Regions from separate parts of the Homo sapiens genome. Here regions 1 and 2 are each linked to region 3. Evidence: fine-mapped expression QTL. A gene starts in region 3. Each other region holds a variant in brackets. All regions are shown on one strand. Distances are from middle to middle.

Evidence for each region. PIP is the estimated chance that this variant, and not a neighbour inherited with it, causes the effect.
Region 1: its variant is fine-mapped to the expression of RTN4RL1 in atrial appendage (GTEx, PIP above 0.99).
Region 2: its variant is fine-mapped to the expression of RTN4RL1 in caudate (GTEx, PIP above 0.99). The same link has a PIP of 0.9 or more in cerebellar hemisphere and cerebellum.

What each region holds. Positions count from the first base shown.
Region 1 is chr17:1,884,514-1,892,689 of GRCh38, forward strand. RPA1 (replication protein A1) reads left to right here. Exons shown (of 17, transcript NM_002945.5): 14 at 4,162-4,338; 15 at 7,320-7,427. Among named protein-coding and RNA genes, the nearest start is that of RPA1, 59 kb to the left of the region's middle. The variant C/CTGA (reference allele first, on the strand shown) is at 4,575.
Region 2 is chr17:1,917,655-1,925,830 of GRCh38, forward strand. No RefSeq gene overlaps it. Among named protein-coding and RNA genes, the nearest start is that of RPA1, 92 kb to the left of the region's middle. RefSeq lists a silencer at 4,459-4,641. The variant C/T (reference allele first, on the strand shown) is at 3,594.
Region 3 is chr17:2,021,166-2,029,338 of GRCh38, forward strand. RTN4RL1 (reticulon 4 receptor like 1) reads right to left here and starts at 4,169. Exons shown (of 2, transcript NM_178568.4): 1 at 3,688-4,169. The coding sequence starts at 3,700. LOC105371486 (a long non-coding RNA gene) reads right to left here and starts at 2,517. Exons shown (of 4, transcript XR_001752746.2): 1 at 2,431-2,517. RefSeq lists a silencer at 1,618-1,797 and enhancers at 3,016-3,561, 4,730-5,230.

The DNA.
Region 1 (8,176 bases), 140 kb before region 3:
TCTAAGCCTGTGTTCTGCCAGCAGTTTAGTATTTAGATCATTTATTTCTCCTTTACGCCTGCTCTTTTATTTTCATCATATACAGTGTAGGTTTCATTCCTCCTGTCTCATTTCACTGTATACCCTTATCCATCATTGTCAACAGCAGCTCTTAAGTGCTCTTATAGAACATCTCAAGAATTAAACACTGGACAGATCCTCGTTGTCCTGTCATGGGACACCCACTCTTTCGGTTCTCTGTAATCCCAGCTACCCAGGAGGCTGAGGCAGGTGGATTACATGAGCCCAGGAGTTCGACTGAGCAACATGGAAGACCCCTTCTCTTGAAACAAAAACTTTATTGCTGAAAAATGCTGACAATCATCTGAGTCGTAATCTTCTTGCTGGTGGGGGTTTGTTTCAGGGTTGATGGCTGAGCAGTCACGGCGATGGTTGCTGAACATCGGCGTGTCTTTGGCAGTTTCTTAAAATAAGACAGCAGTGAAGTGTGCCACATTGGTTGACTCTTCCTTTCACAAAAGCTTTCTCCATAGCCGGCGATGCTGTTTGACAGCATTTTACCCACAGGAGAACTTTTTCAAACTGGAGTCTCTCCCTCTCAGGTCCTGTCACTGCTTTATCAGCCAAGCTTATGCAAATTCTAAATCCTTTGTCGTCATTTCAACAATGCTCACAGCGTTCTCACCACAAGAGATTTCATCTCAAGAAAGCACTTTCCTTGCCCATCGTAAGGAGCAGCTCCTTATCCGTTCAAGTTTGATCGTGAGATTACAGCAGTTCAGGCCCATTTTCAGGCTCCATTTGTAATTCTAGTTCTCTCGTTATTTTCGTCACATCTACAGATCCCTCCTCCACCAAAGTCTTGAAGCCTCAGTGTCTACCTTGAGGGTTGGAATCAACTTGTTCCAAACTCCCGTTGATGTTGGGATTTTGATCTCCTCCCATGAATCATGAATGTTCCTTTTTTTTTTAACTTGAGACAGGGTCTCATTCTGTCACTCAGGCTGGAGTGCACTGGCTTGATCACAGCTCACTGCAGTCTCAACCTCCCCAGGCTCCCAAGCTGGGACTACAGGTGCTGCCACACCTGGCTAATTGTATTTTTTGTAGAGACTGAGTTGTGTCATGTTGCCCAGGCTGCTCTCAAACTCCTGGGCTCAAGGGATCTCCCTGCCTCAACCTCTCAAAGTGCCAGGAGTTACAGGTGTGAGCGACTGTGCCCAGCCAACTGTTCTTAATAGCATCTAGAATGGTGAATCCTTTTCAGGTTTTCAATTTACTTTCCCCAGATCCATCAGAGGAATCACTGTGGCAACTATCGCCTCATGAAATATGTCTCTTAGACTTAAAAAGTCAAAATTACTCCTTGATTTGCATGGGCTGCAGAATAGATGTTGTTATCAAGCATGAAAACAATATTAATCTCCTTGTTCTGTGCATCTCCATTGAGCCCTCGGGTGAACAGGTGCATTGTCAATATATTAATCTCCTTGTACTGTGTGTCTCCATTGAGCCCTTGGGTGAACAGGTGCATTGTCAATATATTAATCTCCTTGTACTGTGTGTCTCCATTGAGCTCTTGTGTGAACAGGTGCATTGTCAATATATTAATCTCCTCGTACTGTGTGTCTCCATTGAGCTCTCGGGTGAACAGGTGCATTGTCAATGAGCAGTCATATTTTTAAAGGAGTCTCTTTTTCTGAGTAGTAGGTCTCAACAGTGGGCTTAAAATATTCAATAAACTACACTATAAATAGATATGCTGTCATCCAAGCTTTGATATTCTATTTATAAAGCAGAGGCAAAGTAGATTTAGCATAGTTCTTATGAGCCCTAAGATTTTTGACATGGTCAATGAGCACTGGCTTCACCTTATAGTCCCCAGCTGCATTCGCGCCTAACAGGAGAGTCAGCCTTTCCTTTGAAGCTTTGAAGCCAGGCATTGATTTCTACTCTCTAGGACGAATGTTCTTGATGGCATCTTCTTCCAGAAGGCTATTCTGTCTACGTTGAAAATCTGTTGTTGAGTGCAGCCACCTTCATTGGTGGTCCTAGCTAGATCTTCTGGATAACTTGCTGCAGCTTCTCCATCAGCACTTGCTGCTTCACCTTGCACTTTTGTTATGGTGACGGCTTATTTCCTTAAACCTCATGAACCAACATCTGCTGGCTGCCATCTTTTCTTCTGCAGCTTTTTTTTTTTTTTTTTTTGAGACAGAGTCTCACTCTGTCACCCAGGCTGGAGTGCAGTGGTGCAATCACAGCTCACCTCAGCCTCTGGAGTAGCTGGGACTACAGGTGCACACCACCGTGCCCTGACAGATTTTTGTAGAGACTAGGTCTCACTATGTTGCCTGGCTGGTATCGAACTCCTTGGCTTAGGCAATCATGTTGCCTCTGCCTCCCAAAGTGCTGGGATTACAGGTGTGAGCCACTGCACCTGGCCTCTTCTGCAGCTTCCTGACCTCTCTCAGCCTTCACAGAATTGAAGAAAGGTGAGGCCTTGCTCTGGGTTAGGCTTTGGCTTAAGAGAATGTTGTGGCTTGCTTGATATTCTATCTAGACCACTACAGCTTACTCCATATCAGCAGTAAGGCTGTTTGCTTTCTTATTTGTGTATTCAAAGAAGAGAGACAGGAATACTTGATTGGAGGATCAGTCAGCATACATACAACATTCATCAATATAAGTTCCCCATCTTATATGGGTGTAGTTGGTGGCACCCCAGAACAACTACAATAGTGACGTTAAAGATCACTGTAGGCCAGGCGCGGTGGCTCATTCCTGTAATCCCAGCACTTTGGGAGGCTGAGGCAGGCGGATCACCTGAAGTCAGGAGATCGAGACCATCCTGACCAACGTGGTTAAAACCCCGTCTCTACTAAAAATACAAAAATTAGCTGGGCGTAGTGGTGCATGCCTGTAGTCCCAGCTTCTCGGGAGGCTGAGGCAGGAGAATCGTTTGACCCTGGGAGGCGGAGATTTCAGTGAGCTGAGATCATGCCACTGCACTCCAGCCTGGTGACAGAGCGAGACTCCGTCTCAGAAAAAAAAAAAAAATCACCATAACAGATATGATAATAATGAAAAAGGGCCAGGCATGGTGGCTTACTCCTATAATCCTAGCACTTCGGGAGGCCAAGGTGGGTGGATCACTTGAGGTTTGGAGTTCGAGACCAGCCTACCCAACATGGCAAAACCCCATCTCTACTAAAAAATACAAAAATTAGCCAGGCGTGGTAGTGCACGCCTGTAGTCCCAGCTACTTGGGTGGCTGAGGCAGGAGAATCACTTGAACCTGGGAGGTGGAGGCTGCAGTGATCAGAGATTACACCACTCACTGCACCCCAGCCTGGGCGACAGAGCGAGACTCTGTCTCAAAAAATACATATATAATGAAAAAGTTTGAAATCTTGCAAGAATTACTGTCTTTATGTGACACAGAGACATAAAGTGAGCACCTGCTATTGGGAAAATAGTGCATTTACTTGACCCAGGGGTGCCACAAGTCTTCAATCTGTAAAAAATGCCGTATCTGTCAAGTGCAGTAAAGCAAAGCACAATAAAGTGAGGTGTGTCTGTAGTTGCAGCAGAGACTGTGACCAAATGGCTGCTAAGGCCTGAAATATTTACTGTTTGGCTTTTTACAGAAGCAGCTTGCTGATCCCTGGCCTAAACAAGGAAAAGGTGAATCTAGGCCTAGACACGACTGCCGTGTTTTGAGCGCGGGAGGGATGGTTGATCGTTGCTGCACTGGGTGTTTGTGGTCCGCATTCTGTATTTCCTAGATCTGTGGCCTTTGGAGGGTCAGAGGATCGGGAGGAACAAATCTTTGTCTTTCATACAGTGTTCAAGCAAACAGGAAAACAATTTCACTTTTAATTAACTTAGTGTAATTTAGGATTAACTCTTTTATTGTGAAGGAATTATCTGCCTCAGAACTTGGCTTATTAGAACTTGGCTTATTACCTTCATGGGTTTTGTACTCGGCACATGTGATTTCTAAAACTACAGAATGAATGATTCCCTGTGATCATGTGTAATCTTGAGGATGTAGAAACACTTACCACCTAAACGTAAGGGCAGGCTTTGAGCTGCCTCTCGGTCCGATCCTGGGCGGGCTCGCGACTCCGTGCCTCATGCTGTTCTTTTCTCCCGAAGCCGGACTACTTTAGTTCTGTGGCCACAGTGGTGTATCTTCGCAAAGAGAACTGCATGTACCAAGCCTGCCCGACTCAGGACTGCAATAAGAAAGTGATTGATCAACAGAATGGATTGTACCGCTGTGAGAAGTGCGACACCGAATTTCCCAATTTCAAGTACCGCATGATCCTGTCAGTAAGTAGCCTCGGTAGATGAGAACCACGGTTGTGTTCACGGAGGCCCTCCCGTGTGCCAGGCACTGTGGTCACAACAGTAGAGACAAAGCATTCCTGGTAGGAAGCCCGCAGATGAGTAGGTGTGGAAGAGCTTATCCATCCGCTTTTTCATGCCAGAAAGTGGTGTTGAGATACCCCAGCTGATTCAGTCTTTCATGCACGTCATACAGCCATAGCGTCAGTGACACTTGCCTG[C/CTGA]TAACTGCTATGAAGATAAATTAATTTGAAAACGGCATTTATAGACAGCACTAATTGTACTTACACAGCCAATGCCCGTATTTAGTCACTTTCATGTGGATAATCTATTCTCTAGCTTTAGTATAGCTGACTTCAGAGGAATGTGACGGTGTGCTGATGTGAGATTGTTGCTTTTTTGCATTTTAAGAATTGTTTCTTTCTGTTTTAAAAACCTTTTTAAAAAAGTTGTAAAGTTGGGTTTAAAAAAATTTTTTTTTTTTTTTAAGAAACAGGGGTCTCACTCTGTTGCCCAGAATAGAGTGCAATGGTATCATCACAGCTCATGGTGGCCCCAACCTCCCGGGCTTAAGCAGTCCTTCCACCTTGGCCTCCCAAGTAGCTGCAACTACAGCTGTGCACCACCACACCCAGCTAATTTTTAAAATTATTTTATTGTAGAGACAGGGTCTCGCTCTGCTGTTCAGGTTGGTCTCAAGTTCCTGGCCTCATGTCATCCTCCCACCTCAGCCTTCCAAAGTGCTGGCATTACAAGCCTGAGCCACTGCACCCGGCCTTAAGATTTTTATTTTGTTTTGTTTTGTTTTCAATGATAGAACTAGGCGATAATAGCAGTTTAAGAAAACAGTTTAAGGCCGGGCACAGTGGCTCACTTTTGTAATCCCAGCACTTTGGGAGGCCGAGGCGGGTGCGTCACCTGAGATCAGGAGTTTGAGACCAGCCTGGCCAACATGGTGAAACCCTGTCTCTACTAAAAATACAAAAATTAGCCGGGCGTGGTGGCGGGTGCCTGTAGTCCCAGCTACTCGGGAGGCTGAGGCAGGAGAATCGCTTGAACCCGGGAGGCAGAGGTTGCAGTGAGCCGAGATCACACCACTGCACTCCAGCCCGGGCGACAAGAGCAAAACTCCATCTCAAGAAAAGAGAAAAAGAAAACAGTTTCACATTTTTCCAAAGGATGATTTGGCAGTAATATATCAGAAGCCTGAAAAATGTTCATATTGGCCAGGCGCAGTGACTTGTGCCTGTAACCCCAGCACTTTGGAAGGCTGAGGCAGGATGATTGCTTGAGGCTGGGAGTTCGATATCAGCCTGGGCAACATGGCAAGACCCTGTCTCTACAAAAAGTAAAATTAGCTGGCTGTGGTGGTATGCACTTGTCCCAGCTACTCATGAGGCTGAGGTAGGAGGATCGCTTGAGCCCGAGAGGTCAAGGCTGCAGTGAGCCATGATCGTGGCACTGCACTCCAGCCTGGGTGACAGAGTCAGACCCTGTCTTTAAAAAATAAATAAATAGGCCGGGCACGGTGGCTCACGCCTGTAATCCCAGCACTTTGGGAGGCTGAGGCAGGCGGATCACGAGGTCAGGAGATCGAGATCATCTTGGCTAACACAGTGAAACCCTGTCTCTACTAAAAGTACAAAAAAATTAGCCAGGCGTGGTGGCGGGCACCTGCAGTCCCAGCTACTAGGGAGGCTGAGGCCGGGGAATGGCATGAACCCGGGAGGTGGAGTTTGCAGTGAGCCACGATCGCGCCACTGCATTCCAGCCTGGGTGACAGAGCAAGACTCCATCTCAATAAATAAATAAATTAAATTAATAAATGATAAATAAAATGAAATGTTAGCTTAGCAGGACAGTTCTACGTTTAGGCTCATTTTTTGTAAACTATAAACTTTTCATTGAACTAAGATGAAGAAAATTTGTTTTAGTTTGTGGAAACATCAGCCTTTCTGTTAAACTCCACAGCGCAATCTCCCGCACACTTGTTTGATTTGATATTTATCACACGTGTGCGTCATTGTAGTTCTTGCCCTGTGTGATGAGATGCTCTTTGCTTCTTAGAAGGATAGCGTGGGTTAAAGGAAGTGTGAGCCCAGGGTGTGATACCGTTGCTGTGTATTGAGAGCGCTTTTCACTTTTAACTGGTTTCGTCACCTTATTTTTCGTCATAACATTCTCTCTATTAAAAGCCTTGTACCCATGCAAAATGAAGATGTAAAATCGTCAAAATGATGCCTTAAAGAAAAACCACTCGTGTTTCTACAAAGGCTTTTACTTCAGCAAGTGGATTCTTTGAGATCTGCTTTCTTCCTTGACTTTGCCCTGTTTAATGTTACACCACAGCCCAGTGGGAGACATTTGATTGCTCATTTCCTTTGCCAGGTCAATTTGGTGACTGACAGAGGCTCACGGGCAGGCTCTTCAGTTGTCTGGGTGCCCAGCAGTGACAGAGCCGTCTCATGGAACTCCTCCTAGGAACTACAGAGTGGGCAATTGAAAATGCAGAGAACTCCCCCGATTCACTCAAAACCCTTCATCCAAAGCCAGCTGCACCTCGACAGGAACTAATCTGATGGGCCTCTCTCTGTCACCCAGGCTGGAGTGCAGTGGCTCGATCTCAGCTCGCTGCAACCTCCGCCTCCCGGGTTCAAGTGATTCTCCCGCCTCAGCCTCCTGAGTAGCTGGGATTACAGGCACCCGCCACCATGCCTGGCTAATTTTTGTATTTTTCGTAGAGACGGAGTTTCACCATGTTGGCCAGGCTGGTTTCAAACTCCTGGCCTCAAGTGTTCCACCCGCCTTGGCCTCCCAAAGTGCTGGGATGACAGGCATGAGCCCACTGCACCTGGCCCTCTCTGGAAATTATTTTAATAAGTGGAAAAAGAACATTAACCTCTCCCCATCTTCTCAGTGTGTCTTTTTATTATTTCTTTGCTGAAATAATGTAGAATTGTGTTTTTTAGGTAAATATTGCAGATTTTCAAGAGAATCAGTGGGTGACTTGTTTCCAGGAGTCTGCTGAAGCTATCCTTGGACAAAATGCTGCTTATCTTGGGGAATTAAAAGACAAGGTCAGCCACATATTTTATTATAACTTCTATAACTTTTAATGGTTCTCATTCTATAACACTGACCCCACACATTTTTTTTTTTTTGAGATGGAGTCTTGCCCTGTTTCCTAGGCTGGAGTGCAGTGGCGCGATCTCAGCTCACCGCAGTCTCCGCCTCCCGGGTTCAAGTGATTCTCCTGCCCCAGCCTCCTGAGTAGCTGGGATGACAGGCACCCGCCACGATGCCCGGCTAGTTTTTGTATTTTTAGTAGAGACGGGGTTTTACCATGTTGGCCAGGCTGGTCTCGAACTCCTGACCTCATGATCTGCCCGCTTCAGCCACCCGAAATGCTGGGATTACAGGTGTGAGCCACCACACCTTGCCCAACACTGGCCCTCTTTTTGCTGTTTAATATTTTTTAGTTTGTTTCTTTTTGGTATTGTTTGTATACAGTTTCTCAGCCTGATAATTATTTAAGAGCTCATCTGATGTTATCTAATCTTGTCCATTTGGGATGTGCTTAACAGTGAAATAATGTATATAAAAGTACTTTAAAACCAAAGCACTTTCTAAATCGAAGCCACCCGTTTCTCCTGTTCCTATTAGCACATCAGAGCTAGTGTGCCTGAGATGACTTAGGTCGGGAGGTGTCCCTGAAACAACCTGAATTATTACAGGCATGCTTTTTTAACATAGTAAATACCTTCCAGAAAAGTTGAGTCAGATCCTGGTTAAAATGCACGTATGTCAAGTTCCTGGGTCTGTCCTA
Region 2 (8,176 bases), 100 kb before region 3:
CTGTTTACTCAGCCCAAAGCCACGGGGCCAGGCTGCTCCCAGACCCACTGGGCAGGCCCTGTAGGGACAGTGGCAGTAGGCGGTTAGCCCTGTAGGGACAGTGGCAGTAGGAGGTTAGCCCTGTAGGGACAGTGGCAGTAGGCAGGCCCTGTAGGGACAGTGGCAGTAGGCGGGCCCTGTAGGGACAGTGGCAGTAGGCGGGCCCTGTAGGGACAGTGGCAGTAGGCAGTCAGCCCTGTAGGGACAGTGGCAGTAGGAGGTTAGCCCTGTAGGGACAGTGGCAGTAGGCAGGCCCTGTAGGGACAGTGGCAGTAGGCGGGCCCTGTAGAGACAGTGGCAGTAGGCAGTCAGCCCTGTAGGGACAGTGGCAGTAGGCAGTTAGCCCTGTAGGGACAGTGGCAGTAGGCAGGCCCTGTAGGGACAGTGGCAGTAGGCGGGCCCTGTAGGGACAGTGGCAGTAGGCAGGCCCTGTAGGGACAGTGGCAGTAGGCGGTTAGCCCTGTAGGGACAGTGGCAGTAGGAGGTTAGCCCTGTAGGGACAGTGGCAGTAGGCAGGCCCTGTAGGGACAGTGGCAGTAGGCGGGCCCTGTAGGGACAGTGGCAGTAGGAGGTTAGCCCTGTTGCAGAGAACCTGCCACCACCATCCCTATCTGGCGCTCTCCCTGCCCTTGGTTCTTTCCCTTCTTCTCTCTCTACCCCCTTCTCTTTTTTTTTCTCACTCAGCTTCTCTGCTGAATTCTGCATTGACATCAGCACTTCCAAAAACAACAACAAAGGAAAGTAGGTCACCGGCGTACCGGATCGGAGCTGGGCCCCGGTGCCAGCTGAGTCCGGGGCTGCGGCCCATCTCATGGAGAGCCGGGGGCGCCCCAAACTCTGCGCCACAGCCTCACACATGCAGCTTGGTTCCTGCCCTGTGTTCTTAGCGGGAAGGGGTAGGTATGCGTGCATGGCCTGTATGTTGGCATGCTGGCTCACGGACGGGGCAGCGTTGGGGTTTCTGCACCAAGGGGAACACCACGTACACTCCATACGTTCCTTCTGGTCCAGGTATGATAGAACTGGGGGTCAAGAAACCCAGGGTGCACACGCCTGCTCTTGGGACTGGGATCCAGCCTGCAAATGCACGTTGATTGACATACGTGATTGACATACGTGATTGACATACGTGTGTGCACCGGCCTGACAGCACTGCCTTCTCGGCCCTGTCCCTCCAGAGCTTCTTCACATGTAACATTTCCTCGGCTCTCTATGGTCACGGAGCTCCCAGTTCTACTTGAAAGATTACCCAACACGCTAATTGGGACTCCTGCTATGATTAAAAAGAAATTCCGGATTACAGCCACCATGCCACAGAGCTCAGGAAGAAAACAGCTCTTTATAAACCCAGCAGGAGCAGACTTTCGTTTATTTATTTTTTTTCTACCTTTGAAAGAAATTGCATCTTGAGGTTGTTTGGCCCACAATGAGTGACTCAAGTACACATAGTCACCAGGTAAGGCCCAAATTGTAAAGAGAGGGGCACTCGGGAAGAGATAAAATTACAGCCTCTTCCCCCGCCCCCGGCTTTTTAATACCTAACCGAGTTATTTCTGTAAGCCTAGATCCTGCCTCGGCCGGCGCCTTTGGCCCCCTGACCTGGGAGATAGATGCTACTGTTCCGTCTGGGTCAGCCTTCGCCCACGATAAAGCTTTTATGAGCAGCTGAGGGTGCTTCATTTCAATGAAGCTCCCTGAAGCAATTAGCTCTGGAGGTCCCCAGAGGTGGCTGCAGGGAGGGAGGATTTAAGCCGTGGTCAGTGAGAGGCAGGCACAGCTATGAGAGCAGCACTGCTGAATGATTTCACTTGCAGGGCTGAGCTCATCGCATTGATACTTTTAGAGCTCATTAGCTTGGGGAGGGGGGCTGGCACGCTGTACCGGGTCCCCTGGGCATCTGACCTCTCAAAGCAGCTCCTCTTGGACCAACAGGGAAGAAGTCCTCCTAATTCCTTTTCTACTTCCACCAAACACCCATCCCCTAGTTAAGGCTTTGAAACATTAACATGGAACCCAAACCCTCTTAAAAGGCAGCCGTTTGACTTTATGAAAATGAAACATCTCCCTAATGTCAGCTTCATTAAAAGATGTAAGAAAAGAACATCAATGTTTGCTGATAGAAGAATATAATTGTTGGCCAGGCGTGGTGGCTCACGCCTGTAATCCCAGCACTTTGGGAGGCCAAGGCGGGAGGATCACCTGAGGTTGGGAGTTCAAGGCCAGCCTGGCCAGCATGGTGAAACCCTGTCTGTACTGAAAATACAAAATTAGCTGGGCGCAGTGGCAGGAGCCTGTAATCCCAGCTACTCGGGAAGCTGAGGTAGAGAATCTCTTGAACCTGGAGGCAGAGGTTGTGGTGAGCCAGGATCATGCCATTGCACTCCAGCCTGGACAATAGAGCGAGACTCTGTATCAAAAAAAAAGAGAGAGAATATAATTGTCTTTAAGGGTAACTGGCTGGTTATTGCAGATAATTATCTGCAAATAATGGAAGGCAGGTGATAAGGAGGAAGGAGGCCATGCACACGGAGCTGGCACAGGTGAGCAGAGCCGTTGGCCCAAGTGGGGTTGGGTTGGGGCTGGGAACAGCATAAGGCAAGGGCCGCACTGCCAGACTCCTCCACAACCACCCTTCCCAGAGTTTTTGCATGCACAGAGCAGTAGGGTTGCAGAAAGAATTTGGAGGGCTTGCCTTGGGTTGCCAGCATTTTGTTTGGCCAATGAGAGACCCCAAGACACAGAAGCTGCTATGTACCAGTCCCGTTGGTTCAGAAAAGAAAGATCATTTTTACTTTTATTTTTTAGACAGAGTCTCACTCTGTCACCCAGGCTGGAGTGCAATGGTGCAATCTTGGCTCACTGCAAGCTCTGCCTCCCGGGTTCAAGCAATTCTTCTGCCTCAGCCTCCCGAGTAGCTGGGATTACAGGCACCCGCCACTAGGCCTGGCTAATTTTTTTTGTATTTTTCGTAGAGACGGGGCTTCACCATGTTGGCCAGGCTGGTCTCGAACGCCCAACCTCAGGTGATCCACCCACCTTGGCCTCCCAAAGTGCTGGGATTACAGGCGTGAGCCACTGCGCCCGGCCAAAGAAAGATCTTTTTAGAACACCCTTCTCCCTCCCCAAACCAAAGGAAAAAAAAAAATAAGGACATGATTTCAGAATAAAGGATTATCTTTAGATGGAATAAATTTGGCTTAGCAAAAAACTCAATACATTAATGTTTCGTTGCAAATCGGTAAAATCGCAATCACAGGCTCCCCTTGTCTCCAAACTAGCATTTGGAAGCCAGTGTTCCCAGGGAGCTTGGAGCCTGCCAGTTGCCACAGCTTTTAGGATGACAAGGAAGCAGATTGCCTGGGTTTAAAATTCCGTTGCTGGCGTCTTCTGGAACCAGCCGCTCCATCCTTTCCCCCACCACCCCCGCCCCGTTTTCCTTGTGTGACAGAGTGGAGGAGTAGACGATTGGGTCGAAACCAAATTGGTCAAAAGGACAAACTGGTCAAGAGCGACTATTTCCGCCGCAGCCTTGGCTGTTCCACAAGCCGGTTCTG[C/T]CAAGGACTCGTCATCCCCAGGCGGAGTGCCACCTACATGCCAGGTGGGAGGCGGCGTTGCGGAGGAGCCGCTGAGGGTGAAACGAAGGAGTCCGGGCCAGTTCTTAGCCTTTTTCAGGATCTGATGAAAAGGCCGTGCTGGCCTGCACCTGTGGGCCCAGCTACTCAGGAGGCTGAGGCAGGAGGTTCGCTTGAGCCCAGGAGTTTGAGACCAGCCTGGGCAACAGAGGAAGACCCTGTCCCAAAAATATAAATTAATTTATTTATTAATTAAAAGAAAAAAAAAAAGGCCAGGCGCGGTGGCTCATGCCTGTAATCCCAGCACTTTAGGAGGTCGAGGCGGGTGGATCACCTGAGGTCAGGAGTTTGAGACCAGCCTGGCCAACATGGTGAAAGCCTGCCTCTACTAAAAATACAAAAATTAGCCAAGCGTGGTGATGGGCGCCTGTAATCCCAGCTACTTGGGAGGCTGAGGCAGGAGAATCAGTTGAACCCGGGAGGTGGAGGCTGCAGTGAGCCGAGATGGTGCCATTGTACTCCAGCCTGGGCAACAGAGTGAGACTCCATCTGCTTTTGGCTGGGCGCAGTGGCTCACGCCTGTAATCTCAGCATTTTGGGAGGCCGAGGGGCGGATCACGAGGTCAGGAGATCGAGACCATCCTGGCTAACATGGTGAAACCCCGTCTCTACTAAAAACACAAAAAATTAGCTGGGTGTGGTAGTGGGCGCCTGTAGTCCCAGCTACTCAGGAGGCTGAGGCAGGAGACTCACTTGGACCCAGGAGGTGGAGGTTGCAGTGAGCCGAGATCGTGGCACTGCACTCCAGCCTGGGCAACAGAGCAAGACTGTGTCTCAAAAAAAAAAGAAAAAGAAAAGAAAAAGAAAAAGAAAGCTCTCTCTGGCCGGGCGCGGTGGCTCACAGCTGTAATCCCAGCACTTTGGGAGGCCGAGGCAGGTGGATCACGAGGTCAGGAGATGAGACCATCCTGGCTAACACGGTGAAACCCCGTCTCTACTAAAAATACAAAAAAATTAGCCAGGTGTGGTGGCGGGCGCCTGTAGTCCCAGCTACTCGGGAGGCTGAGTCAGGAGAATGGTGTGAACCCAGGAGGCAGAGCTTGCAGTGAGCCGAGATCCGGCCACTGCACACCAGCCTGGGCGACAGAGTGAAACTACCTCTCAAAAAAAAAAAACAGAAAGAGAAAGAAAGCTCTCTCTGGAAACCTGCACATTCCAGGGGCCCTGCATTGAATTCCAGGAGGTTTGTGAACACCTCCTTCATCTCCCCAAACTTGTTAGGGGGACTCTGGCCAATAATCCTGCATCTGGACAAACACTTCTCATTTTCCACTTCTCAGTTCAATGATATAATGACATTTAAAATCCTAAAATTTCATTCATAAATATCCAAGAAAAAAAGAAAAGGACTATTCCTTCCTTGTCCCTGTTGGAAGCTTTATTTTTTTCCTTATCAAAGTTGTTTGAATATGTGGAAACTTTACCCAAATAGGTAAAATTAATATCACTAACTGAAAAATATATATATATATATATATATATATATATATATATATATATATATATATATATTTGGAGCAGAGGTTTAATAGGCAAAAGAAAGAGAAAGGAGAAAGGTAAACAGCTCTCTCTCTAGTGAGAGAGAAGGAACTTCTGAGATGAAAAGGCCCAGTTTTTTTTTTTTTTTTGATGGAGACTTACTCTGTCGCCCAGGCTGGAGTGCAGTGGCTCGATCTCGGCTCACTGCAAGCTCTGCCTCCAGGGTTCAAGCCATTCTCCTGCCTCAGCCTCCCGATGAGCTGGGACTACAGGCGCCCGCCATCACGCCTGGCTCTAATTTTTGTATTTTTAGTAGAGACGGGGTTTCACCGTGTTAGCCAGGATGGTCTCCATCTCTTGACCTCGTGATCTGCCCGCCTCAGCCTCCCAACATGCTAGGATTACAGGCCTGAGCCACCGCACCCGGCCCAAAATATATTTTTTTTATGGTGAATTAACAGGGAGTTACGCAAAATATTACCATTGAGGGAAACTGGGTGAAAGGGCTCCAGGACCTCCCTGCTGCTTTCTTTTTTTCAGTTTCCTGTGAACCTGTAAGTATTTCCAAATAAAAAGAAAAAAACTAAGACACATTGTAAAATGTTGTAGTATCACCTAGGATAAATTGATATATGAATTAGTGGTTGCCCGTTCAGTTTTTAAGCCAATTTGCTATTAGACCATTTAAAATTGGAAACAAAATATTAAAATCCATGAAAATATTCCAAATAAGAAAAGTAGACATATTTGATTGAAATTAACATGAAAATTTTGAGACAATTTTTCAAATGAGCAAAAACAGTGAAAAGAAAATATAAATTCCAAGGACAGTCCCGGGATTCACAAAAGCTCTTGAGAAGAGGCCTAAAACTGTCACCAGACCCAGCTAATTTTTTTTTTTTTTTTTTTTTGAGACAGGGTCTAACTCAGTCACTCAGGCTGGAGTACAGCGGCACAATCACAGTTCACTGCACCCTTGAACCCCTGGGCTCAAGTGATTCTCCCACCTCAGCCTCCTGGGTACCTGGGACCACAGGCACATGCCACCGTGCCTGGCTAATTTATTTTTTATTTTATTTTATTATTATTATTTTTTTGAGACAGAGTTTCGCTTTTTGTTGACCAGGCTGGAATGCAATGACACGATCTTGGCTCACCGCAACCTCTGCCTCCCAGGTTCAAGCGATTCTCCTGCCTCAGCCTCCCGAGTAGCTGGGATGACAGGCATGCGCCACCACACCCGGCTGATTTTTTTTTATTTTTATTTTTATTTTTAGTAGAGACAGGGTTTCTCCATGTTGATCAGGCTGGTCTCGAACTCCTGACCTCACGTGATCCACCTGCCTCAGCCTCCCAAAGTGCTGGGATTACAGGCGTGAGCCATTGTGCCCAGCCTATTTTCTTTTTTTTTTTTGTAGCTGGACCGTCTATGTTGTTCAGGCTGGTCACAAACTTATGGACTCAAGTGATCCCCCTGCCTCAGCCTCCTAAAGTACTTGAATTACAGGCGTGAGCCACCGCACCCAGCCCTGTGTGTTGTTTTGTTTTGTTTTGTTTTGTTTTTGTAGCTGGGCCATCTATGTTGCTCAGGCTGGTCACAAACTTATGGGTTCAAGTGATCTTCCTGCCTCAGCTTCCTAAAGTACTTGAATTACAGGAGTGAGCCACCATGCCCAGCCTGCCCAGCTAATTAAAACAATTTTTTTTGTAGAGCCAGGCATGGTGGCTCTACAGCCAGTTAGGCTGCCCAGGCTGGTCTTAAACTCCTGGGCTTAAAACCAAGGCCAACATGGGAGGCTAAGGCAGGAGAATCACTTGAACCCAGGAGGCAGAGGTTGCAGTGAGCCAATATCATACCACTGCACTCCAGCCTGGGCAACACGGCGAGACTCCGTCTAAAAAAAAAAAAAAAAGGCCGGGCGCAGTGGCTCACGCCTGTAATCCCAGCACTTCAGGAGGCTGAGGCAGGCAGATCACGAGGTCAGGAGATCGAGACCATCCTGGCTAACATGGTGAAACCCTGTCTCTACTAAAAATACAAAAAATTAGCCGGGCGTGATGGCAGGCGCCTGTAGTTCCAGCTACTCGGGAGGCTGAGGCTGGAGAATTGCTCGAATCCGGGATTGCGCCATTGCACTCCAGCCTGGGCAACACAGAGAGACTCAGTCTCAAAAAAAAAAAAAAAGAAAAAGAAAAAAAGAAAAAAACAAATTGGCCAGTCGCGGTGGCTCATGCCTGTAATCCCAGCACTTTGGGAGGCTGAGGTGGGCAGATCACCTGAGGTCAGGAGTTCAAGATCAGCCTGGCCAACGTGGTGAAACCCCGTCTCTACCAAAAATGCGAAAAAAATTAGCCAGGCGTTGTGGCATGTGCCTGTAATCCCAGCTACTCTGGAGGCTGAGGCAGGAGAATCGCTTGAACCCAGGAGGCAGAGGTTGCAGTGAGCTGAGATCACGCCATTGCACTCCAGCCTGGGCAACAAGAGCAAGACTCTGTCTCAAAAAAAAAAAAATTTTTTTTTTGTAGAAATGGGTCTCGCTATGTTACCCAGGCTGTTCTTGAACTCCTGGTCTAAAGTGTCCTTCCTCCTTGGCCTCCCAAAGCATTGGGATTACAGGTGTCAGCCACCACACCCAGCCCAGAATGTACCTATTTTTTATTTATTTTTATTTTTAGTTTTTTTTTGAGACAGAGTTTCACTCTGTCGCCGAGGCTGGAGTGCAGTGGCGCGATCTTGGCTCACTGCAACCTCCACCCTCCGGGTTCAAACGATTCTCCTTCCTCAGCCTCCTGAGTAGCTGGGACTACAGGCGCCTGCCACTGCGCCCAGCTAATTTTTTGTATTTTTAGTAGAGAGGGGGTTTCACCATCTTGGCCTGGCTGGTCTTGAACTCCTGACCACGTGATCCACCCGCCTCAGCCTCCCAACGTGCTGGGATTACAGGCATGAACCACCACACCCAGCCATTTTTTGTATTTTTTGTAGAGACGGAGTCTTGCTATGTTGTCCAGGCTGGTCTTGAGCT
Region 3 (8,173 bases):
ATGCAAGGCAGTCCCCCTCAGTCCTCCCAAAATGTCATGCCAGGGGACAGCTTTACTAGGACAACCAGGAATCAGAGAGATGATCCTTATGGCCCAAGGTGTGCTCCGCCTTCCTCCTCCTCTGGGGCTTCATACCACTGCACCCCTCACTGCATAGGGCACCCCATTATCAAGACCATGAGCCCTGCCCTTTGCAGAAAGATGAGGGGTTTTTTCTCTTCCCTCCTTCCCACAGGATCTAGGGAGGGCTACCCTTTCTTCATCTTTCAAACCCTTTTCAGAATCATAATTAAATTATTACACTCCCTCAGGTCCAGGACCCCACATAGGGCTCTGCATATTATAGGCAAGAAAACAGCAAGAACTATTTAAACACATCCTATACCTTTTTTTTTTTTTTTTTTTTTGAGACAGAGTCTCGCATCTTCTCCTGGGCTGGAGTGCAGTGGTGCGATCTTGGCTCACTGTAACCTCCGCCTCCCGGGTTCAAGCAATTCTCCTGCCTCAACTTCCCAAGGAGCTGGGATTACAGGCATGAACCAGCACGCCCGGCTAATTTTTGTATTTTTAGTAGAGACGGGGTTTCACCATGTTGGCCAGGCTGGTCTCGAACTCCTGACCTCCGGTGATCCTCCCAACTCGGCCTCCCAAAGTGCTGGGATTACAGGTGTGAGCCACTGTGCCCGGTCTTTTTTTTTTTTTTTTTTTTTTTAAATAGGGTCTGGCTTTGTCCCCCAGGCTGGAGGGCAGTTGTACAATCTCGGCCCACTGCAGCCCCCACCTCTCAGACTCAAGTGATCCTCCCACCTCAGCCTCTCAAGTAGCTGGGACCACCAGTGTATGCCACTGCAAATTTTTTAAAATTTTGGCCGGGTGCAGTGACTCACACCTGTAATCCCAGCACTTCAGGAGGCCGAGGTGGGCAGATCACTTGAGACCAGGAGTTTGAGACCAGCCTGGCCAACATGGCAAAACCCCATCTCTACTAAAAATACAAAAAATGAGTCAAGCATGGTGGCGTGCACCTGTAGTCCTAGCTACTTGGGAGGCTGAGGCAGGAGAATTGCTTGAATCTGGGAGGCAGAGGTTGCAGTTAGCTGAGATTGCACCACTGCACTCCAGCCTGGGCAACAGAGTGAAACTCTGTCTCAAAAAAAATTTTTTTTTGTAGAGACGAAGTCCCACTCTGTTGCCCGAGCTGGCCTCGAACTCCTGGTCTCAAGTGATCCTCCTACCTCGGCCTCCCAAAATGCTGGGATTACAGCCATGAGCCACCACACCTGGCCTCCTGTATCATTTTCGCTTGGAAACTTTGGGAAGAATTCTAGAAGCAGACACTTCAATGGCCACCTCCCTGGGCATTAGCCTCAGGCATGCTTTTGGCTTTGGGCGCCTACCTAGAATCCATACAGAGAATCTGAGTGTCCTATACAGGTGTGCAGAAGAAACTAATCCAAAAGATCAGGATCTGGGGCCAAGAGAGAAAACTGCCTGCCCAGGAAAGAACCAACACAAGTCACCCGTCCACACGATGCCCTAGGGGCGGTCTCCAGGTCACCCAGGCTGAGCCCAGCCCAGTGAAGGGCTTCTCTGCTCTGCTTCCTTTGGGCCAATCCAGGTGGAAACCTATCGGTGGAACCTCTTCAGCCAACCAGGCTGTGCAGGAAGGAAGAAACAGCCCGAGTGGCAAACACACGTGACTGCTAAGCCTCCGGTGGCCGCCTCTTGTGCAGGGTAAGGAGCCTCCCCCCGGGGAGCGGCCCCCACAGTGCACTGTGCTCATCCACAGCTGGGCCTCTGGCTAGCCAGGGTGGGAGAGAAAGGCTCTTGGAGGCTGCTGGAGCCTCCTTGGGCACCTAAACCATATAAATAAAGTGTGTGGGCTGCTTGGTGGCTCATTTTTAACTATAAACTGCCAAAAGACAAAAGACCAAAAGGGAAATGAGATGTCAGTTCCTCTCCATTATCCCTATCACAGACCTGCAGCCCAGACATGGCGGCCTCTCAGAGCTGTCTGGGAAGCCTTCTCGACCGGGGCAAGTTTGCACGCTCCAGGCCCAAGTTTCTCAGACCCGGGCTTCTGCTCAGCTCTGTAAAAAGCACCTTCTCTGTGCAAAGACACTTTGGCCAGCACTGCTCGGTTGCTGAAAGGACTTTTTGTCCCTTTCTGCAGGGAAAAGGAGAACCTGGGGTGTGTCTGCGAAGCGGTTTCTCCAACTAGCCCCAGAAACTCTTCCATACCACAGCGAAGGCAGCCGGCGTTTCCCCCTGAACTGCACCGACCCACGTGGAGGGCACAAGTCACACACAAGTTTGTTACTATTCCAGGACGACGGGGCAACTCAGCTTCCTCGGTCGGCCCAAGCTAGGACCACCACACGGCCTTCACTGCCCCACCAAAGGCGTGGTTCCTCCACCCACCTGCCTGACCTGCTTATATCTGGGTCTTCGCCATCACCTCCACATCTGCTTCTCTCCGCCCATCTTAGGGCTTCGCTTCCCCCCACCTCCCCAACCTCCCCCCCCTCCACCCCCTCCCCGTGCGCGTTTTCTCCTTCCCCATCCTGCTGTGAGGTCAGAATCCTGTGCTTACGACACCTCGGTCTGTTGCCATGGAAACAGGGGCGGATTAAGGCTGGAGCGTGGAGCGCAGGGATCAGGCCCCTCGGCTACCTGAGCTCCCGCCTCAGCCGCTCCCGCAGGGCCGGGGCAGCCAGCCGCAGGCGCCGCGGCTTCTCAGCCTCCTGGCCGGGCCAGGCGCGGGGGGGATCCCGGCGGGGCGCCACAGCCTGCTCGGGCCTGGGAGGGGAGAGGCAGACGCAGAGGCTGGAACAGCTGGTGGCGGGGCCCGTGGGCTCCCGGCGTGATCACCTGCCCTCCCAGGGCCCGGGGGACGGCGCCCCGCGTGGCAACCACGTGGGGGCGCGGCGGGACTTCCCCGGTGCCCGCACCAACTTTGCCGCGCTCCGTACCGGGCCGGGCTGCTGGGGCGTCTAGCTACGGTGGTCGCGAAGCCAGCTGTCCTCAAGTTGAGCTGTGCACCGGTCGCGCACACTGGCGGCACGGCTTTCGCGTCCCTCCGCTCCCAGCATAATGAAAGTTTGAGGAACTGGACATCAGGCGCTGGCCGCTCCCCACCCTCAGCCGCTGGGTGCCCAGAGCCCATCCCTAGCGATCAGAGCAGAACTGCAGAGAAGACGTCCGCGTCCGGGCCCCGTCTGGGGAGCTAGGGCGCGCGGGGAGCGCCCGGGCCGCGCGGTCACTGACCGCTGGCTGCACGGGGGCGCCGTGCGGACTCGGCCTCCACAAAGCGGCAGAAGCAAGGGCGTGTGCCCGCGCAGGGAATGGAGGCTGCAAGTGCAAAACTTTATCCCAGCAAAGCAAAGGTCCCAGGAGGCCGGCTCCCCTTCCACCACCGGCCGCTCACTCTGGTCTCCGACTGACCCCTCCGGGCCGGATCTCTAGGCCTGGCCACTCGATCCATGGAGAAAACCCCGTGTCTCACAACTGGCCGCTGACGGGAGCTGAGCCCCAGCAGCAGCCCCTCGGCGGGTGCGCCCGGCAAAACCCACCAGCCCGCCGGGGGCTACTTCCCAGACCGGGAGCCCCGGCGCCGGGCGGCGCCCGGGCTCGCGGCTCTTTCCGGAGCGCATTCAACTTCAACTTGCCCCTGCGGCTCCAACTCACCTTTGCGAAGCATGTTGGCCACGGGGCCGCCGCTCCGAGGTCGGCCTAGGCGCACTCCCTCCCGGGGTCCAGATTCAAATCCCTGGGCGCCAGCTGCAGCTAATCCGAGCGCGTCGAGGCGGGGGCAAGCCGGGGATCCGCTCGTGCCCGGTGGCCCGGCCCCGCAGGGGCATGGTGAGCTCCAGCCCCGCGCCGAGGGCACCGGCGCCCGCAAGCAACCGTGGTGCTGCCCGGCAGCCCCGCGCGCTTGCTCAGCCCCGGGGCGAGCGGCTTGCTCCGCGGAGCCGGCGGCCTGCTTCTGCCACCCGGAGCACTTCGCAGGCGGTTTTGAGGGGGGACGCCGCCCCCTGGCCGGCCGGCCGCAGCCCCCTCCTCTCCGCCCCCTCGGACCACCGCCGCCGCGGCTGCAGCAAAAGGGCGCTCGCACGCACCGCCGAGCTCCGGGGAAAGCGCCCGGCGCGCGTTTGCAGGACCGAGCGATCGGCGGAGCGGGGCGCCTCCCTTCCTCCCCCCGGCTTCCCCCTCCTCTCCTCCTCCCTCCCTCCCTTGCTCTCTAGCTCCCTCCCTCTCGCTCCGCTCCCCGCCCCCGCTCACGGAGCGCCTCCCATACAAAATTTATGAAAGTGCTCTCAGCTCGCAGTGCCGAGCGCCGTCCTATTCCCAAGGCAGCAGCGCTCAGCCGCGCGGCGCCGCCTCCCAAGGTGTTTTCACTGCGCCCGCCCCCGGGGAAGATGCTCGGCCCGCGTCCGTCCAGGCACCTGCCCCCAGTCCCCAAGCCGGTCCTCGGACCACTCCACGCCCCTCCCCGGCCCCGCAGGCCTCCTGGAGCCCGAACCCGCAGCCCAGCCCCCGCCCGCTCGCCCTTCGCGGCTGGAGGTCATCGGGAGACGCGGCTGGGACGCGAGGACCGCCGCCCAGAGTACGGATCGCGAGTCCGCTCCCTGCCCCGTCTCCTCCCTGGCCAGCGCCCCTTCTCCCAGTCTCGACGGCTCTTCCCCGCACTGAACAGCTCCAGCGAACCCGGCTGCCCCGCACCCCGAGTCCCAGGACACTGTTCTTTCGTGGGGAGAGGAGGGGAGCAAGCATTCGGAAAGGGCCAGCTGCAAATTCCAGGGAGAAGGAAGGACCCGTGCGGGTTCGGGTGGGCCGTCTCCGCCTGGGTGGGGTGGCGGCGGGGGGTCTCTGATCTCCCTTGGTCCACACAGACCCCGCCGGGGGGTTCGCGGAAAATGGAGGAGGCGCCGCTTGGAAAGCGGGTCCCGCAGGGGCCTGTTGAGCTGAGGGAAGAGAAGGTTCGGGCCAGGCGAGATCCTGGGTGGAGGCGGCACCCCCTGCTGGCCTGGGATCAGAGGGATTCGGAGAGAAGAAAAAGCGGATGGACCAAGGCTGTCATTCAACACACATTCACCGAAGGCTCAGCATGTGTGGGGCACTACTGTTCCTGAAAATTCAGCAGACGAAAAAGACTTGTCTTTGCCCTGTCCTCAAGGAGTTTCCATTTTAATAGGGGCCAAATGAGGAAAGTCCAGAGAAGATGGGAAGATTGTGCTTCGAAGAAAAACAAGCAGAGTATTGTTCTGGAGCTGACACGGGGGTAGAGGTGGCAGTCAAGGAAAGCTGCTCTGAGCAGGTGACATCCAAGCAGAAATCCAACTGAATCCCTCCTTGTAGGAAAAGGTGACATGATAGGAAGGTCAAAAAGAAGGTCAGGGCCGGGCGCGGTGGCTCACGCCTGTAATCCTAGCACTTTGGGAGGCGGAGGCAGGCAGATCACGAGGTCAGGAGTTCGAGACCACCCTGGCCCGCATGGTGAAACCCGGTCTCTAATAAAAATACAAAAATTAGCCGGGCATGGTGGCAGGCGCCTGTAATCCCAGGTACTCGGGAGGCTGAGGCAGGAGACTCGCTTGAACCCGGGAGGCGGAGGTTGCAGTGAGCCGAGATCGCGCCACTGCACTCCAGCCTGGGTGACAGAGTGAGACTCTGTCTCAAAAAAAAAAAAAAAAAAAGGGCCAGGCTGGGCGCGGTGGCTCACACCTGTAATCCCAGCACTTTGGGAGGCTGAGCAGATCACTTGAGGTCAGGAGTTCGAGACCAGCCTGGCCAAGGTGAAACCCCGTCTCTATTAAAAATACAAAAATTAGCCGAGCGTGGTGGTGTGCGCCTGTAATCCCAGCTACTTGGGAGGCTACGGGAGAATCTCTTGAACACAGGAGATGGAGATTGCAATGAGCCGAGATCACACCACTGCACTCCTGCCTGGGTGACAGAGCGAGACTGTCTCAAAAAAACAAAACAAACAAAAAAAAAGAAGGCCAGTCTGACGTATTCACTCACACCTGCATTTGGTGGCACTGAAGCTTCAGATTTGAGCTAAGGCTCTGGGCTTGGACTTCCAGAAGCTTCAGGTGTCGTGGGAAAAGAAAGACCCGCAAACCATCTTAGAGTGTGACTGACAGAAGTCACAAAGACTGCGAAAGGGCTCTGCTAGCTCTGCCAGGGGCTACCAGATAATCAGGAAACAGTCACAGAAGAGGTGCCCTTGGAGTTAGGTCTTGAAGGCTGAGTTCACCACACTAAGAAGGGGGAAGGGCATTCCACGTAGATGCTTGAAGGTGAGAAGTAACCTTGTTCTGAAGATAGATAAGATTGGTCCTTCCTGAGGACCATGGGCTCACACCTATAATCTCACCACTTTGGAAGGCTGGGGTGGGAGGATTGCTTGAGGCCAGGAGTTTGAGACCAGCCTGGGCAACAGTGTGAGACTCCATCTCTATTTCAAAAAAATGTTTAAAGATAAAAAAAGATGGATGGCTGCTACTCTGGGCACACTGCCCATGGCCACAGGAGCAGTTAAACACGAACAAAAAAAGATTGGTCCCTCTTGGCGTAGAACAGAAGGTGAGGTATTCCTTCTCTTAGCCACCAGCTACAAGGCAGTGCTCACCCCACTGCCTGCCTTAGCCCTGACACTGGGAGCCTGAGAGGTCCTCTGTAAGTACACCGAGGCCCAGAGAGGATGAACAACTTGCTCAACGTCACATCACAGATCAGCGATAAAGTGTGGGCCTGACTCAGGGCCTGAATGTGGGATAATCCTCCTTCCACCTCTCCAAGCCGCCTCCCCATGACCCCCTAGCCCACAAACTCTAGCGTCTTAGGAAAAGTTGGCTGGGGCTGGGCGTGAGTGTGAGAAGCAGAGTTATTTCAGGCCTCAGGAGGGTTGGGTGCTGCCTTGGAGTCCAGCCAGGGAGTGGGGGCGAGTGAAGGCGGGTGTTGTGGTGTACTGTGGGGGTGCACTGTGCCCGCCTTCTTGTCAGGCAGTAATTACTCAGACTGCTGAGTAACTCAGGCAGGGAGACCCCCACAGACAGATGGAGGTGCCCTCAGCCCAAGCTGAATGGCAGCCCCCAATGTCCTGCACCACGGAGTCTTGGGGAAGCATTCTCACATCTGTTCTTCATGTCCAGTTCTCCTAGGCATCATCCGGCTTCCTAATGGGGGCCAGAGCAGCTCATTAGGCACAGCGGGTGCGGGGCAATGTTACTAGAGGGATGGGACTTTTGCCATCAAACAGGCCCCACCTCTGATGAGGGAAAGGTCCCAAGGGATATGGCGCCTGCTAGGGAGAAGCCATTGCTCAGTTGGAGCCAGTCCTTTCCCCTTGAAACTCCATGCTGCAGTCACAGCTAAGGCTGTCCACAGGCTGGGCAGCAGTGTCCTGAGAGAGGAGGGGCTGAGCTCCCAGAATTCAGATCTTGCACCCTGGGGATCCAGAGAAGCTGGGGGGAGATGGGAAGGTCTAGTCCGGACGCTTATCGAGTTGAGGGGAGTGTTCCTGGGACCCACATTGGTCACTTTTCTGTCTAGAGCTACCTGTCCTAAGAGTGCCGGTGGCCTGGGGGGCACAGCACTGACCCTTGGTGATGGTCCCTCAGCTGCTCACTCCCTGCCTGTCCAGCCATTCCTCCTCTCTGGGCAGCCTCCCAGGCAGGGCCTGTCTCTGGCTGCTTGTTTTTACTTCTCCCTGCACCTTAATTAGGGGTTTCCAAGCAGGGAGGGCCTCTGGGGGAGCCCGAGGACACAGAGCTGACTTAAAGGGCCAGCTGTGATCACAGCACCACCGCAGAGAGAGGAGGAGGATGCCAGGGGGCTGGGTAGACCGTCAGACCTGGAAGACCATTGTTCCACGGGACAGACTGCTGAGGGCCAGTCCTGCAGGTACTTTGCTCTTCCACAGGTCAAAGCCGTCTCACTGGCTGTCTTCTCTTTGGGGTCTCTGGGGCTCTGGCCAGTGATCAGGAGAAAGACCAGCCCTGAGGGGCAGGGCAAAGGTTGGCCAGGGTCCAGAAGGGTTAGACATCACAGTCCTCCACTGCCCACCTTCCCAGGAAAGCACCCTCAGGCTGTGGGCCTTCCCCAGAGGGGCAGTTTCTACAGGGTCTACGCAGTGGATTCTAAAGGTGATAAAGGCTGGGTGCAGTGG